Regions from separate parts of the Homo sapiens genome. Here region 2 is linked to region 1. The links come from fine-mapping of genetic effects on gene expression. Tissue or cell type: pancreas. Region 1 holds a variant in brackets; the other region holds the start of a gene. All regions are shown on one strand. Distances are between the middles of the regions.

The links. PIP is the estimated chance that this variant, and not a neighbour inherited with it, causes the effect.
Region 2: EGFR starts here. The variant in region 1 is fine-mapped to the expression of EGFR in pancreas (GTEx, PIP 0.95).

What each region holds. Positions count from the first base shown.
Region 1 is chr7:54,958,318-54,968,981 of GRCh38, forward strand. No RefSeq gene overlaps it. Among named protein-coding and RNA genes, the nearest start is that of EGFR, 55 kb to the right of the region's middle. The variant C/T (reference allele first, on the strand shown) is at 4,996.
Region 2 is chr7:55,016,173-55,021,172 of GRCh38, forward strand. EGFR (epidermal growth factor receptor) reads left to right here and starts at 2,845. Exons shown (of 28, transcript NM_005228.5): 1 at 2,845-3,193. The coding sequence starts at 3,106. It overlaps LOC105375284 (a long non-coding RNA gene), which reads right to left and starts at 2,750. Exons shown (of 4, transcript XR_007060329.1): 1 at 389-2,750. RefSeq lists an enhancer at 3,845-4,519.

The DNA of each region.
Region 1 (10,664 bases):
AAAAATACAAAAATTAGCCGGGCATGATGGCGGGTGCCTGTAATCCCAGCTACTCATGAGGCTGAGGGAGGAGAACCACTGGAACCTAGGAGACGGAGGTTGCAGTGAGCTGAGATTGCACCACTGCACTCCAGCCCGAGTGACAGAGTAAGACTCAGTCTCAAAAAAAAAAAAAAAGGGTGAGGGGAGGGATGGAATCTGAGGAGGCGGACACTGACGGGATGTGGTGGGGGCTGGAGGAGGGAAGCCACTCAGATGAAGCCCTGGGGTGCTGCCTGGATGGCTGGAGGAATAGCAGTGCCATTAGCAGAGGAAACAGAGGCCAGGCGCTAGGCAGAGGAAAAGGCATCTAGAATCAATGACCTGGAGGTGCCTGTGGGAAATAGAAGTGACGTCTCTGTGACTACCTGGTGTATGGTTAGATGGGTCTGGAGCTCAGATATGGATGATGTTTAGCTTCATTATTTGCTGGTTTATTCTAAAAAATTTAAACATATGCCGAGATTAGGAAAATAAGATAGTGGACCCTATACGTATCCATCACCAAGCTTCCAAGATTGTCATTCCACTGCCAATCTGGTTTTACCTATGCCCTCACCTATGCCCAACCTTAACTATTTTGAAGCAAATAGCAGACATCACATCTTTTCATCCATAAATGTCTCAAGAATGAAGATTTTTTTAAACACACAATACCTCTATCACACCAAAATATTAGCAATAATTTCTTAATATTATCAAATATCCAGTTATGTACAAATTTTTCCCATTGACTAATACGTATTTTTAAAATCTGAATCAGAATTCAAACCAGGATGTCTCTTAAGGTTTTTGCAGACTCTAAAATCTTTCTCTCTCTCTTTCTTTCTCCTGCCATCTTTCTCTCTCTCTCCATTTTTTTACCTCCCTTCTTCCCTTACTCTTTCTCAATTTATTTGTTGAAGAAAGTGAGTAGTTTGTTGGTAGAATTTTATATAGTCTACATTTTGCTGATTGTATCCCAATGATGCCCTGTCTCCTATATTTCCTGTTAACTGGTAATTCAATCTAGATATTTTATCACATCCACGTTCAAATTTTTAGCAATAAAATACAACAAACCCCCCATATCTGTGTGTCCTGCACTCATGGATTCAAGCAACTGCAGATAGAAAATAGTTTTTAGAAAATCGTGTCTGTACTGAACATGTATAGACTTCTTTTTTCTTGTCATTATTTCTTAAACAATAAAATATTGTAACTATTACATAACATTTACATTGTATTAGATATTATAAGTAATATAGAGGTGATTTAAATCATATGGGAGAATGTATGTAGGCTACATACTAATACGAAGCCATTTTTTATCAGGAGCTTGAGCATCTGTAGATTTTGGCACCCACGGGGGCCCTGAAAGCAGTGCCTGCAGATGCTGAGGGATGCCTGCCCTCATGCGATGCCAGCACTTCCAGCACTAGGCACAGAAGCCCGCTAGCCTCACCTTTCTGACATTAGCAGACACTGGTGGTAAGGGCCCAACCTATTATTTCATTAGATGTGAAAAGATGCTAACAGTCAACTCCACCAATCCTTCCTTATTGCTTATCAGCTGGAAGAGATCACCAGAAGTCACGAAACAGCAGTGCCAGGCCGGGATGAGGACATCCAGGAAGAGGGTACAGGGTGAGGCCTGGGGACCCTCAGCACTTCAGGAGAAATGAGAAGGGGGGATGCTGAGAACAGCCTGGAAAGTGAAGGTCCTGCCAGAGGGGAGAATGCCTTCAAAGAAGCCAAGGTGGAGGAGCGTCATAAGCGACAGGGAGGGCCACAGTACCCAGCATCCTGGCATAACAAAGAGATAAAGCAGGAGAATCACATGGAAACGACAGTTCCTTGACCACAATTTCCATCATTGTATTTGAAGGAATGAAAGGCGATTGACCTTGATTTAGCGCCCTATATGACACCTCCAGCCTCCAAAGCTGGCTTCCACGCAGGAGGCATGACTTTCCCCTGCATTCCCATTCCCACTCGCCTTCCTCTGCCTGTGGGAAGCAGTCAGGATAATCTAGGCTGATTTGCTTGAAGAAGCAGATGATACATGATTGGGGGAAAAGCAACAGCCTGTCCTTGTTTTTTTGTTTTTTTTTTAAGTCTAGTCTCTGAGTAAAAGGAAAGTCTCATAAAACATAGTAGCAACCCATTTAGAAGCTGTGATGAGAAATCGCAGTTTCCTCATTGGCCAACCCAGAGAAAGGCTTTCCTCTTCAGGGGGATGGCACAGAGTTGGAAAGGAAATGAAGACAATGCAGGCAGTATCGGTGGACTCCTGAGAAAATGATGACTCAGGCAGTTGGTGGGGAGAAGTGTCACATTGTCTGAGGATGTCCAATTGCAAGGGGGAATTATGCCCCTTAAGTAGGTGGAGCCAAGGGAGGTAGCAAGAACTAGCCCAAAAGTATATATGGATGTGATTAGTCACAATGGCTGTAATAGTCATACAGGGCTCCCTTCCCACCATGGTCCAGGAAGCAACTGACTCCAGGGGCCTGAGAATGGTACTGAAGCAGAACGAAATCCTCCTTGACCCTAACAATACTGAAACAAAGTGTGATTCAGCAGCAAGCCACCCTCAGGAGCCTAGGACCAAGGACTAAATGGATTTTCAGCCATTGTCAGAGTGGATGGGTAAAGTCAAGGACCTGCCTACACAGATGACCCCCACCCACCCAGCATCACGATGACCATGATCTGTGCTGCTTCTATGCAAGCCCCTGACTATCTGCGAAACACCGGGAATTGAAGTGAGACACAAATCCAAATTAGGTTTCTGTCAAATAGCAAGATGGAGTTAAAAAGGAAATTGAGTTAGTGTTTAAAATAGAAAGAGAGAGGACAGAGGGAGGGAGGGAAGGAAGAAAAGAAAACAAGAAAGTTACAATTCTTTATATACAAATTCATGTCTAGATGTTTATGTATTACACACTCTCCTGCCCACACACACCCACCTCTAAAATTTGGAAAACAATAATTTTGAAAGCCCAATATTTGCTAATTCTTAATTTCTTCTACTAGTAGCAACAAGGAGTTAAATTTTCTTTCCTTCTATTCGGAGGCATTTCTGCCCTTAGAGACCAGCCCACATCAGGTAATAACACGGCAGCCTCAAATTGAGACCCTTCATGTTTGTTATGCTCATTTCATAATCATTGTCATCTCTGATGAGTCATTTCACCCTCACCATAAATCATTTATGACACTTGAATATAAATATGAAAATAGAAAGCTTTATTTTAAAAGTGTAAGCAGGCTGGGCATGGTGGCTCATGCCTATAATACCAGCACTTTGGGAGGCCGAGGTGGGTGGATCACCTGAAGTCAGGAATTTGAGACCAGCCTGGTCAATGCAGTGAAACCCCGTCTACTAAAAACACAAAAATTAGCCAGGTGCGGTGGGGGTGCGCCTGTAATCCCAGCTCTCCAGAGGCTGAGGCAGGAGAATTGCTTGAACCTGGGAGGGGAGGTTGCAGTGAACCCAGATCACAACACTGCCCTCCAGCCTGGGTGACAGAGTGAGACTCCTTCTCAAAAAAAAAAAAAAAAAAAAAGTAAGCAACAAACTCCAAGCTATAAAACTTTTGAAAGTTTTGCATCCCTGAGGCCATGTAGCCAGGCAATGCCTGGGTAGTGAGCACTTGGGTTGTTAGCCTGGTGTTGCTCTTTGTCCTGGGCTCAGAGCTGGGGCCGACAACACATACAAACCACCCACATCTTGGCAAATATATGCCGCCATTGTCACGTTTCCACCAGCTCGAAAGTGAGGTTAAAAAAAATAATCCTTACCAGCCTCAAGCTCTAAGAAGGGAAACTCATTGCAAAAGGATCAGAAGGAAAAATAAATAAATAATTTTATTCTCTTCTCTATAGCTTATCCACACCCTAATTAGCAGCAGGATCCTAATCCATATCCTGCTAATACATATCCTATTGGTTCTGTTTCTTTGGAGAACCCCTGACTAATACATCAATACTCTGCAGAGATTTCTTGATTTAAAATAACAATGATATTTTGGGTGAGGAGTAATTAAGTGATTCTAAAGTTTATCTGTAAGCATACATAGAAGAGTTAGAAAAGAGTGTTTGCTATTGTGAATAGTGCCGCAATAAACATACGTGTGCATGTGTCTTTATAGCAGCATGATTTACAATCCTTTGGATATATACCCTGTAACGGGATGGCTGGGTCAAATGGTATTTCTAGTTCTAGATCCTTGAGGAATCACCACACTGTCTTCCACAATGGTTGAACTAGTTTACAATTCCACCAACAGTGTAAAAGTGTTCCTATTTCTCCACATCCTCTCCAGCACCTGTTGTTTCCTGACTTTTTAATGATTGCCATTCTAACTGGTGTGAGATGGTATCTCATTGTGGTTTTGATTTGCATTTCTCTGATGGCCAGTGATGATGAGCATCTTTTCATGTGTCTTTTGGCTGCATAAATGTCTTCTTGTGAGAAGTGTCTGTTCATATCCTTTGCCCACTTTTTGATGGGGTTGTTTGATTTTTTCTTGTAAATTTGTTTAAGTTCTTTGTGGATTCTGGATATTAGCCCTTTGTCAGATGGGTAGATTGTAAAAATTTTCTCCCATTCTGTAGGTTGCTTGTTCACTTTGACGATAGTTTCTTTTGCTGTGCAGAAGCTCTTTAGTTTAATTAGATCCCATTTGTCAATTTTGGCTTCTGTTGTCATTGCTTTTGGTGTTTTAGTCATGTTACTGGGTGCAGCACACCAACATGGCACATGTATACATATGTAACAAACCTGCACATTGTACACATGTACCCTAGAACTTAAAGTATAATAAAAAATTAGATAGGGGGAAAAAAGAGTGGTGACCTATATTAGTTGTCTATTGTTACATAAAAAATTAATCTCAAACTGAAAAGCAACCTTTAAAGGCATTGGGCAGCAGTTTTGGCAGGGTGTTCATATTGTCTTTGGAAGCCATG[C/T]GCTAATCTGGAAATCATTCCCATGTATTTATCAGGAAGTAAGTCAAGGGTAAGCATAAAGAGTTTCCAAAGTGTTGGAACCTGGTGTTTCCAAAGAGGCAACACATTTCTGCCAAGGATCATAGACTTTGCCAGAATTCTGAGGACAACAGGGCTCCAGGTGTAACCAGAACACCAATAATTCACATGTCAGGCTGGGAGTTAGAGTCCATCACAATATGAATACAGCTAAAGTTTGTTTTTAATAAAACATTTTCTGTAAGGCAAATTAGGATAACTACTAAGGCCTCACAGCTGATAAATGGCAGAGCAGGAATTTGAATCCTGTTCACTTTGTTTACAAAGCTTGTGCTCTTACCATATGTGATGATTAATTTCATGTATCAACTTGACTGAGCCATGGGGTGCCCAGATATTTGGTGAAACATTATTTTAAATGTGTCCATAAGAGTTTTTCTGGATGAGATTAGCATTTGAATTGGTAGGCTGAATAAAGTACCTTGCCCTGCCCACTGTGGGTGGACCTCATCCAATCTATCAAAGGCCTAAATAGAAGAAAAAGTCTAAGTCTGAGTAAGAGAGAATTTGTGCTCTTGGTCTTCACTTGCCTTCAGACTCGGAATTGGTCTAGAACTTAGGAGATTCGCTCGCCTGGTTCTCAGGGTTTTGGCTTCCTGGGTCTCCACCTTGCCAACTGCGGATCTTGGGACTTCTTGGCCTCCACAATCACATGCCAATTCCTTATAATAAGTAAATAAATACAAATCCTGTTTCTCTGGAGAACCCTGACAAGTACATCAATATGCTACAGAAAATTCTTGACTTAAAGTAACAATGATATTTTGGGTGGGGAACAATTAAATGATACTGAAGTCTGTCTGCAAGCATAAATAGAAGAGCTAGAAAAGAGTGGTGATCTATATTCTGTCTATTGTTGCATAAAAATCACTCCAATATTTAGACACAAAACAACAAACACTCATCATCTCATGATTTCTTTGGTTTGAGGGTTTGGGAGTGGCTTAGCTTAGTGGTTTTGGTTGAAAGTCACTCAGGATATTTGGCAATGATGAACATTTTATTAATGTCCTAAAACTGGGTTGTGAGGTTGGTTAAAATTTACTAAAAGTTATTAAATGGATCTATGGTCTGAGCGTTTGTGTCCCCTTCAAATTCTTATGTTGAAACCTAATCCCCAATGTACTAGTATTAACAGGCAGGGCTTTGGGGGTGATCAGGCCATGACGGTGCAGCATTCATGGATGAGGCTAGTGCCTTTACAGAAGAGCCCAGGGGAGCATGCATGCCCCTCCCACTCTGGAGACTGCAGCAAGAGGTGCCATCTATGGAGGGAAGGGAGAGCCCTCACCAGACACAGAATATGCTGGAGCCTGTATCTGCAACTTCCCAGCCTCTAGAATTTCCCAGCCTCTAGAAGGAATACATTTCTGTTCTTGGTAAGCCAGCCAGTTTATGGAATGTTTGTTATAGCAGCCCAAGATGGTTGAGACAAGTGGTAGACTTATGATGGGTGAGTATATGAATTCTATCTCAGTAAAGCTGTTAAAAAGAAAAAGAAAAACAAAGCTAAAAGTTGTTTCCTTAAAAAAATTAGTGAAATCAGTAAAGTTTAGCAAGACAGATCAAGGAAGAGAAAAGGAGAAAATACAAATTACCAATATTAGGAATGAAAAGAGAAACATAACTGTGTATCCTACAGTTATTAAAAAGGTAACAAGAGTATAATATAAACAACTTTACAACCTAGAATTTGCCAATTTAGATGAAACAGATGAATAAATTCTTTGAAAAAAATTCCAAAAGTAATAGGAAAAGAAATAAAGAATCTTAGGTATTTTATGAGGCCAGAATAACTTAGATACCAAGACTTTACAAGCACCTTACAAAATACATACATGCAAAACTCTTAAATAAAAATTAGCAATCAAATATAACAATATACAAAAAATACATTATTACCAAGTAAATTTATTCTAGGAGGTTAATAGTAGCTTAATACTTGAAAGATATTCATTATAACTCACCACATGTGGTGAAATTCAAATACGACCACAAAGGCTTTAATACTCCCCCTTCAGTACTGTGGTAGAACGTAATTCCCCTGCCCTTGAGTGTGAGCTGGACTTACTGACTCCTTTGTAACTAATAGAATGAAACATAGTGATGATATCTAACTTCAGAGACCAGTTTATAAAGGACACTGTGATTTTCTCATCTCTCCCTTTCTTGGATTATAGTCAACCCTCTATATCTGTGGGTTCCTCATCCATGGATTTCATTGACTCCACATTGAAAATATTCAAAATAAATAAATAACAATGCAACAACAAAAATAATACAAATAAAACATACAGTATAACAACTATTTACATAGTGCTTACATAGTATTTGGTATTATAAATAACCTAGAGATAATTTAAAGTGTATGGAGGAGAAAGGTATATGTGTGTAGGTTATATGCGAATACTATGCCATTTTATATCAGGAACTTGAGCATCTGTGGATTTTGATATCTGCAAAGGATACTGAAACCAATACCCCACAAATACTGAAGGATGACTATACTCACCTTGAAGTAAACAAACAGCTTTACGGTAAAATATATATCACATAAGATTTGCCATTTTAACTATTTTTAAGTGTAAAATTCAGTGGCATTAATTACATCTCCACTGTCTCATTCCAAAATTCTTTCCATACCCCAAGCAGAAACTCTGTACCCATTAATCTGTTACCGATTTTAAACAATAAAAGTTTTCATTTTCTTTCATTATCTCATTGGACATAAGATATAGTCAGCAATAACTTAGTTAAAGCCTTTTCTTATATTTAAATGTAATTATAGGATACTTTTCTTGGGAAGGGAGGAATGACAATTGATTCTAACCACAGTCTAATGACTTTAACTGTTCTGGAGCTAAGTTTACCTGTCTTTAGAAGGTTTGGAACCATGGTATTAACTACATCCTCTATTTCATGAACAGCTTCCTTGGGCACAATAGTTATGTTCTACCCATTGAGATAGATACAAAACAGGGTGAGATGTGTTCAGGAAAATAAGCTTGTTATTAATACTTTTAATATAACAAATACTGTTATGGTCCAGACACCAAACTGAGCAATTTACAACGTTTACCTCATTTAATCCTCATGACACCCCTATGACATGGTTACTATTTCTATGTGCATTATTCAGAATAAGCCTGTGACATCTCAGCAATGTCACTGAGCCACACACTCACCCTCCTTTAGGTAACACCTTCACTACCTAAGGCAGGTGAAAAAGGAATCATAACCATGAGAGCTAGGTCAGGGGACAGAGTGGAATCAAGACACTAGGGTCACCCTTGTGAGAAGAGCATATAAACTATCATGCTAGGATGCTTTGACATCTGACTTGAGTTTTCTTTGTGTTGGGCACGCATCGCATAGTGTGGTGTTAAGTACGTGGGTTGACTCTGAAATAAAGCCATCTGGGTTTACATGAGAGCTATGGAATTTATTAAGTCTTAGAATTTACTAAAGCTTTTACTTACGAAGGCAAGTTAACAAACCTGTGTAAGTCTCTATTCTGAATAATGCACATAGAAATAGTAACCATGTCATAGGGGTGTCATGAGGATTAAATGAGGTAAACCTCGTAAATTGCTCAGCTTGGTGTCTGGACCATAACAGCAGTTGTTATATTAAAAGTATTAAATTAAAATGAAACATCAATAAATGTCAGTAAGTGAAGGTTTATGTGCTGCTTTTGAGATTCATAAACATGGCTGAAAAGAGAAGGGGTTTAATGAACAAGACTGTTCAAAATGTCAAGTTTACAGATTATCAAAACTGTTTCTTTAAATAGTGTTTGGATGTCAAGTTTTGGAATGGAGCAAATTAAATATTCCTTTCACAGTCTTTCTCTTCCAATTCTAAGATGCCAAGTTTCAGACAAGTGCCTGAATTCCAAGTGACATTCCAACATAGCCCTGTTATAAAGTGCCTTTATGCTCATTCTTCTATAACCTTGATTTAGTCCATTTGTTTTTTGGAGGAGGAGGGTTTCACCTTCAATAGCTACGTGCGAAGTCTAGAGACACATTCAAGTTTATGAGAAGTTTGTACTTTGCATTGTTTATGATTATTCTGACTCAAGCTGAATGGCCCATTTCTCTGTATTGCGACAGCCCGGGCAATTGCACACCTGAGCATGTCCTTGGAATGCGTGAGACACAAACATTCCAAACTGTAGGGATGCCAACTATTCCAACTATGTATCCAGAGTTCCCCACACGTATCTTAGCAAACAAGAACAAAACAACTCGATCCCATTGCTTGAACATGTTGGGCCACCTCATGTTCTCAGGCCACCATCCTCCACCTCAGGTCACGTGGTGAACATCCATAAGTAAGGATTATTCAGACTGAAGGCTAACAAGGAAATAAATAAATGACCCAGGATAAGCCATGGTATCTAGTTCAGGGTTTTTTTAGAGACAGTGGATAGAGCAGTCATTGGGTCTACTTATGACCAGGTCAATGATTTCCCGAAGTCTAAATACATCCAACAGATGTGACACAGTAGACTGCCATGGTCTTGGTAGCCAAGGAATTTGCTCCCAAGTGGAAGAGAAGGGAGCAGTGGTGGTTCTTGATATCCTGTGGGCATTCTCAGCCCAGAAAAGGGAGGCTCTTATGAACCTTCTGAGGAATAATACATTCTTTTAAACACAGAAGAATCTAGCAGAAGCTTATACAGGGAGAGGACTGCAAGTGTGAACCAAGACCTAGCACCTGGCAGGCCAGTCAAATAACCTGGCCATACTTGGTGGTGGGGAGAAAGGAAGCCGGCCCAGTGTTCCTACAAGCACTGCCCAGCTCGATTCCCAGGCCTGTGGCAAAGCACCACATGCGGTCTTCATTTCACTCTGGAAGCTGTCAGTACAGCCCAGGTGTTTCTGCTGCAGGCTCGAAAGGGCTGAAACTGCCGGTGGCCATTTGGGGTTGGGGTTGAGAGACAGGGACTGACAATTGCAAAGCCTTGAAATACAACCGCTACTAATCACAAGGAATGAAAGTATTGCCATGTTGACTATGCAACATTTAGTAACAATAGTACATTTTAAAATTAGTGTTTGCTTAATTGTTGCTCAATTACATTGATGCTGCTATCCCCAAATGCCAAACTATTTCCACTTTTCTGTTGCAGAAAAAAGAACATCACCTCTATAGTTATAACCTTGACATAGAAAATAAGTATATATTTTGTTTTTGTATTTATGCTAACTTTGAATATGTTTTATGTTGCATAAACTCCACAGTTATTATTTTAAGTTCTGCATTTTAAAATTTATTTCCATTTTTATCTTATGGTAGAATATTAAGGTTGATGCCAATAATTTGCTATTATATGTAAATACACAATGATCATCTTCTTACTTTTAGATAAAGTCACAGTAGTAGGATCCTGATCAAAGGTATTTTTACTTGTCAGTATGTTTTTCTGTCAGTTTTCACAGGACAGATGCTGCAAACGTGGCTTCAGTAACACTGCATTCATTACGTCAGGTATGTCACAGGGGGACACCTCCTTCACTGCTGACACCTCATTAATCGTAAAAGGTATCTTATCAGTCTTCTAAATATAATTTCATTCACACATC
Region 2 (5,000 bases), 55 kb after region 1:
AGGTGGTCAAATGCCTTTTGCCTAAGATGGAACTTAGAATATTTGAAGACCTCAGATCTTCACCCTGCCAAATAACGTGTTTCTCCTCCCCTTTCACAGAGCATTTGGTTTTAGGAAATTCAGAGCCACATTCCTTATAGACAAGACTAAACTCTTATTCAACATACTCAGAAACTTCTTCTAAGAGGATAACCACTCATCAGAGGAAAAAAGTTTCTCATGTACAGCTGGCAAAGGGATGGAACCATCTGTGTTATTAAAATTGACAGACGCTTATGAGATTTATTAAGGGAAATACTAGAGTCTTAGTACATACTTGCTAATATAGCATACATGAAGGCTTTATCTATAATTTTTTTGGCCAAGCAGAAATTTTGGTATTACTCACCCTAACAAATTTCCAAGACATTATGAAATAGAATTTTAGGTCCTGACATCACCATTTGTCTCAGGTTTTGAAGCGTTGCTGGACAAGAGGGGTAAAACACGGCTCTGCCTTGGATTCAAAGTTGGCCTCTCATACTAGCAAGTATACCTTGGTATCCTGGTCACTTCTCCCGGCCACAGCATCACATTGCTATAAAAGGCAGATACAAGTATTAACCAGCTCACAGGTTATCAGATAAGCTTAGTCTGACCAATGCTTAACACAGCAACTGGGCCACTATTGTCATTCCTGTGGTGGTGGCACACACACCCAGCCTCTGTCCGGGCCATGGTCTAGGACCACCCTCCACAGAGGCTGTGAGCTAGAGCCCTAACTGTGCAGGGCCCTAACTATGCCAGGCTACTTATCTCTCTTAAGAGGACTTCATTAGTGCCTGCTCGGCCATACAGTTTTTTACTTACCAAGTAACACAGTTATCAGCACACTCCAGGTACTAGCCAAGGACTACAAAATCAACGTGAATGTCAGCTTTTGTATCAAAAGCTCAAAGGAGAAACTCAAACTTTACATAGATGTCCCATGAAGATGTTCAGCAAACCCATTCTTCTCTGTTCCCTGGAATCCATCCCAGTATTGTGCTATGTGTGTGTCTAGTAATTCTTTACAAAAAGCTCTGTTTCTTGTGATGCTATCAGATCACATTGAAGAATATACAAGCCGTACTATGAAGGCTGTTGTCTCATATAGTCCTAACGTAGTGAGAACTGATGTTCTTACATGCTGTCTTTTTGGGCACTCAAAGAAATTCCTGTACAGTCTTACAAATCAGTTGTAGCTTAAATTGATTTGTGTTGTGACTTGTACACACAGGTCACATTCCCTTGACAGAAAATATAGTTTAAAACCAAATTTGCAGCCCTTGTTAAGTGAATGCACAGGACTTTATTGTATTCAGGTCTTTTATTGTAAGACTCACTCCTGTCTTCATTTTATGTTCCACTGTTGTGCTTCCCATTTGCCTTTCTCTAGTTTTGTTTTCTGTGTTTCTACGGACTGCTCTCAGCCCAGGTGTGCAGGAAGCACACACATGCCTGCAGAGCCTTCATGGCCTCTGCATTCAGGGCATGACTTCAACGCACAGTGGCTGTACTGATTTGTTAAAACAAAGGAACAGATTACTTCTCCTAATTCACAGGGAAGTTCCAGGTTGTGCGGGCAGTGAGCAGACCTGTGTCTGTCTGCGCTTGCCCTGGTGAAAAACCCCACCGTTCAGGCTGCAGGGTGCGAGACCCAGGCACAAACATTTTGCTGGATGAGGAGGAAAGATGTAAGGTTGCTCCCCTTCAGAGACAGCAAAGGGCAGGTCTGTAGCTTCACTTACTTCAGGATTGTGATTTTTGACAGAGCCGAGAGATCAGGGTTGTTGAACCAGGCCTGAAGGTCCTAGTGAATCTCGTGAAGAGAGGAGGGGTCTGGCTGTAACATGGACCTAGAGGACATTTTTACTGCAGGAGAAGGAACAGTGGGGATGGGGTGGACTTGCCAAAGGAATATAGCTCAAGTTCCTGCAGCCCAAAAAAGCTCAGTTTCTTTTGGCCAAAGCTTCCGCGAGTTTCCCTGGCATTTCTCCTGCGGGAGCTACAGGGGCAGTGGGACACTTAGCCTCTCTAAAAGCACCTCCACGGCTGTTTGTGTCAAGCCTTTATTCCAAGAGCTTCACTTTTGCGAAGTAATGTGCTTCACACATTGGCTTCAAAGTACCCATGGCTGGTTGCAATAAACATTAAGGAGGCCTGTCTCTGCACCCGGAGTTGGGTGCCCTCATTTCAGATGATTTCGAGGGTGCTTGACAAGATCTGAAGGACCCTCGGACTTTAGAGCACCACCTCGGACGCCTGGCACCCCTGCCGCGCGGGCACGGCGACCTCCTCAGCTGCCAGGCCAGCCTCTGATCCCCGAGAGGGTCCCGTAGTGCTGCAGGGGAGGTGGGGACCCGAATAAAGGAGCAGTTTCCCCGTCGGTGCCATTATCCGACGCTGGCTCTAAGGCTCGGCCAGTCTGTCTAAAGCTGGTACAAGTTTGCTTTGTAAAACAAAAGAAGGGAAAGGGGGAAGGGGACCCTGGCACAGATTTGGCTCGACCTGGACATAGGCTGGGCCTGCAAGTCCGCGGGGACCGGGTCCAGAGGGGCAGTGCTGGGAACGCCCCTCTCGGAAATTAACTCCTCAGGGCACCCGCTCCCCTCCCATGCGCCGCCCCACTCCCGCCGGAGACTAGGTCCCGCGGGGGCCACCGCTGTCCACCGCCTCCGGCGGCCGCTGGCCTTGGGTCCCCGCTGCTGGTTCTCCTCCCTCCTCCTCGCATTCTCCTCCTCCTCTGCTCCTCCCGATCCCTCCTCCGCCGCCTGGTCCCTCCTCCTCCCGCCCTGCCTCCCCGCGCCTCGGCCCGCGCGAGCTAGACGTCCGGGCAGCCCCCGGCGCAGCGCGGCCGCAGCAGCCTCCGCCCCCCGCACGGTGTGAGCGCCCGACGCGGCCGAGGCGGCCGGAGTCCCGAGCTAGCCCCGGCGGCCGCCGCCGCCCAGACCGGACGACAGGCCACCTCGTCGGCGTCCGCCCGAGTCCCCGCCTCGCCGCCAACGCCACAACCACCGCGCACGGCCCCCTGACTCCGTCCAGTATTGATCGGGAGAGCCGGAGCGAGCTCTTCGGGGAGCAGCGATGCGACCCTCCGGGACGGCCGGGGCAGCGCTCCTGGCGCTGCTGGCTGCGCTCTGCCCGGCGAGTCGGGCTCTGGAGGAAAAGAAAGGTAAGGGCGTGTCTCGCCGGCTCCCGCGCCGCCCCCGGATCGCGCCCCGGACCCCGCAGCCCGCCCAACCGCGCACCGGCGCACCGGCTCGGCGCCCGCGCCCCCGCCCGTCCTTTCCTGTTTCCTTGAGATCAGCTGCGCCGCCGACCGGGACCGCGGGAGGAACGGGACGTTTCGTTCTTCGGCCGGGAGAGTCTGGGGCGGGCGGAGGAGGAGACGCGTGGGACACCGGGCTGCAGGCCAGGCGGGGAACGGCCGCCGGGACCTCCGGCGCCCCGAACCGCTCCCAACTTTCTTCCCTCACTTTCCCCGCCCAGCTGCGCAGGATCGGCGTCAGTGGGCGAAAGCCGGGTGCTGGTGGGCGCCTGGGGCCGGGGTCCCGCACGTGCGCCCCGCGCTGTCTTCCCAGGGCGCGACGGGGTCCTGGCGCGCACCCGAGGGGCGGGCGCTGCCCACCCGCCGAGACTGCACTGTTTAGGGAAGCTGAGGAAGGAACCCAAAAATACAGCCTCCCCTCGGACCCCGCGGGACAGGCGGCTTTCTGAGAGGACCTCCCCGCCTCCGCCCTCCGCGCAGGTCTCAAACTGAAGCCGGCGCCCGCCAGCCTGGCCCCGGCCCCTCTCCAGGTCCCCGCGATCCTCGTTCCCCAGTGTGGAGTCGCAGCCTCGACCTGGGAGCTGGGAGAACTCGTCTACCACCACCTGCGGCTCCCGGGGAGGGGTGGTGCTGGCGGCGGTTAGTTTCCTCGTTGGCAAAAGGCAGGTGGGGTCCGACCCGCCCCTTGGGCGCAGACCCCGGCCGCTCGCCTCGCCCGGTGCGCCCTCGTCTTGCCTATCCAAGAGTGCCCCCCACCTCCCGGGGACCCCAGCTCCCTCCTGGGCGCCCGCGCCGAAAGCCCCAGGCTCTCCTTCGATGGCCGCCTCGCGGAGACGTCCGGGTCTGCTCCACCTGCAGCCCTTCGGTCGCGCCTGGGCTTCGCGGTGGAGCGGGACGCGGCTGTCCGGCCACTGCAGGGGGGGATCGCGGGACTCTTGAGCGGAAGCCCCGGAAGCAGAGCTCATCCTGGCCAACACCATGGTGTTTCAAAATGGGGCTCACAGCAAACTTCTCCTCAAAACCCGGAGACTTTCTTTCTTGGATGTCTCTTTTTGCTGTTTGAAGAATTTGAGCCAACCAAAATATTAAACCTGTCTTACACACACACACACACACACACACACACACACACCGGATTGCTGTCCCTGGTTCAAGTGTGCCAAGTGTGCAGACAGAACATGAGCGAGTCTGGCTTCGTGACTACCGACCATAAACCCACTTGACAGGGGAAACATGCCTTGGAAGGTTTAATTGCACAATTCCAACCTTGAGCTGCGCGGGTTCCAAGAGCCAGGCCCGTACTTGCTGTTGATGTCATTGGCTTGGGGAGTTGGGGTTTGGTGCCCAGCGCGGTCGTTGGGGGAGGGGCAAGGCATAGAACAGTGGTTCCCAGACCTTGCTGCACATTGGAATTACCTGGGATTAAAAAAAAAAAAATCAAAACAAAAACCAGTGTCTGGCTCCCGCCCCCAGACATTCTGATTTAATTGGCATGGGGCAAGACCTGGACTTGGGATTTTTTTTAATGCTCTTCATGTGATCTGTTGGGCAGCCAGATTTGGGGATCACTAGACGGAAGAAGGATTGTTAAAGTCTCCGGAGATGTTACTTGCCAATGCTAAGAGCTCTTTGAGGACATCTGGAATTGTTACAATATTGCCAAATATAGGAAAGAGGGAAAAGGTAGAGTGTGATTCCAATAATAAAGGAT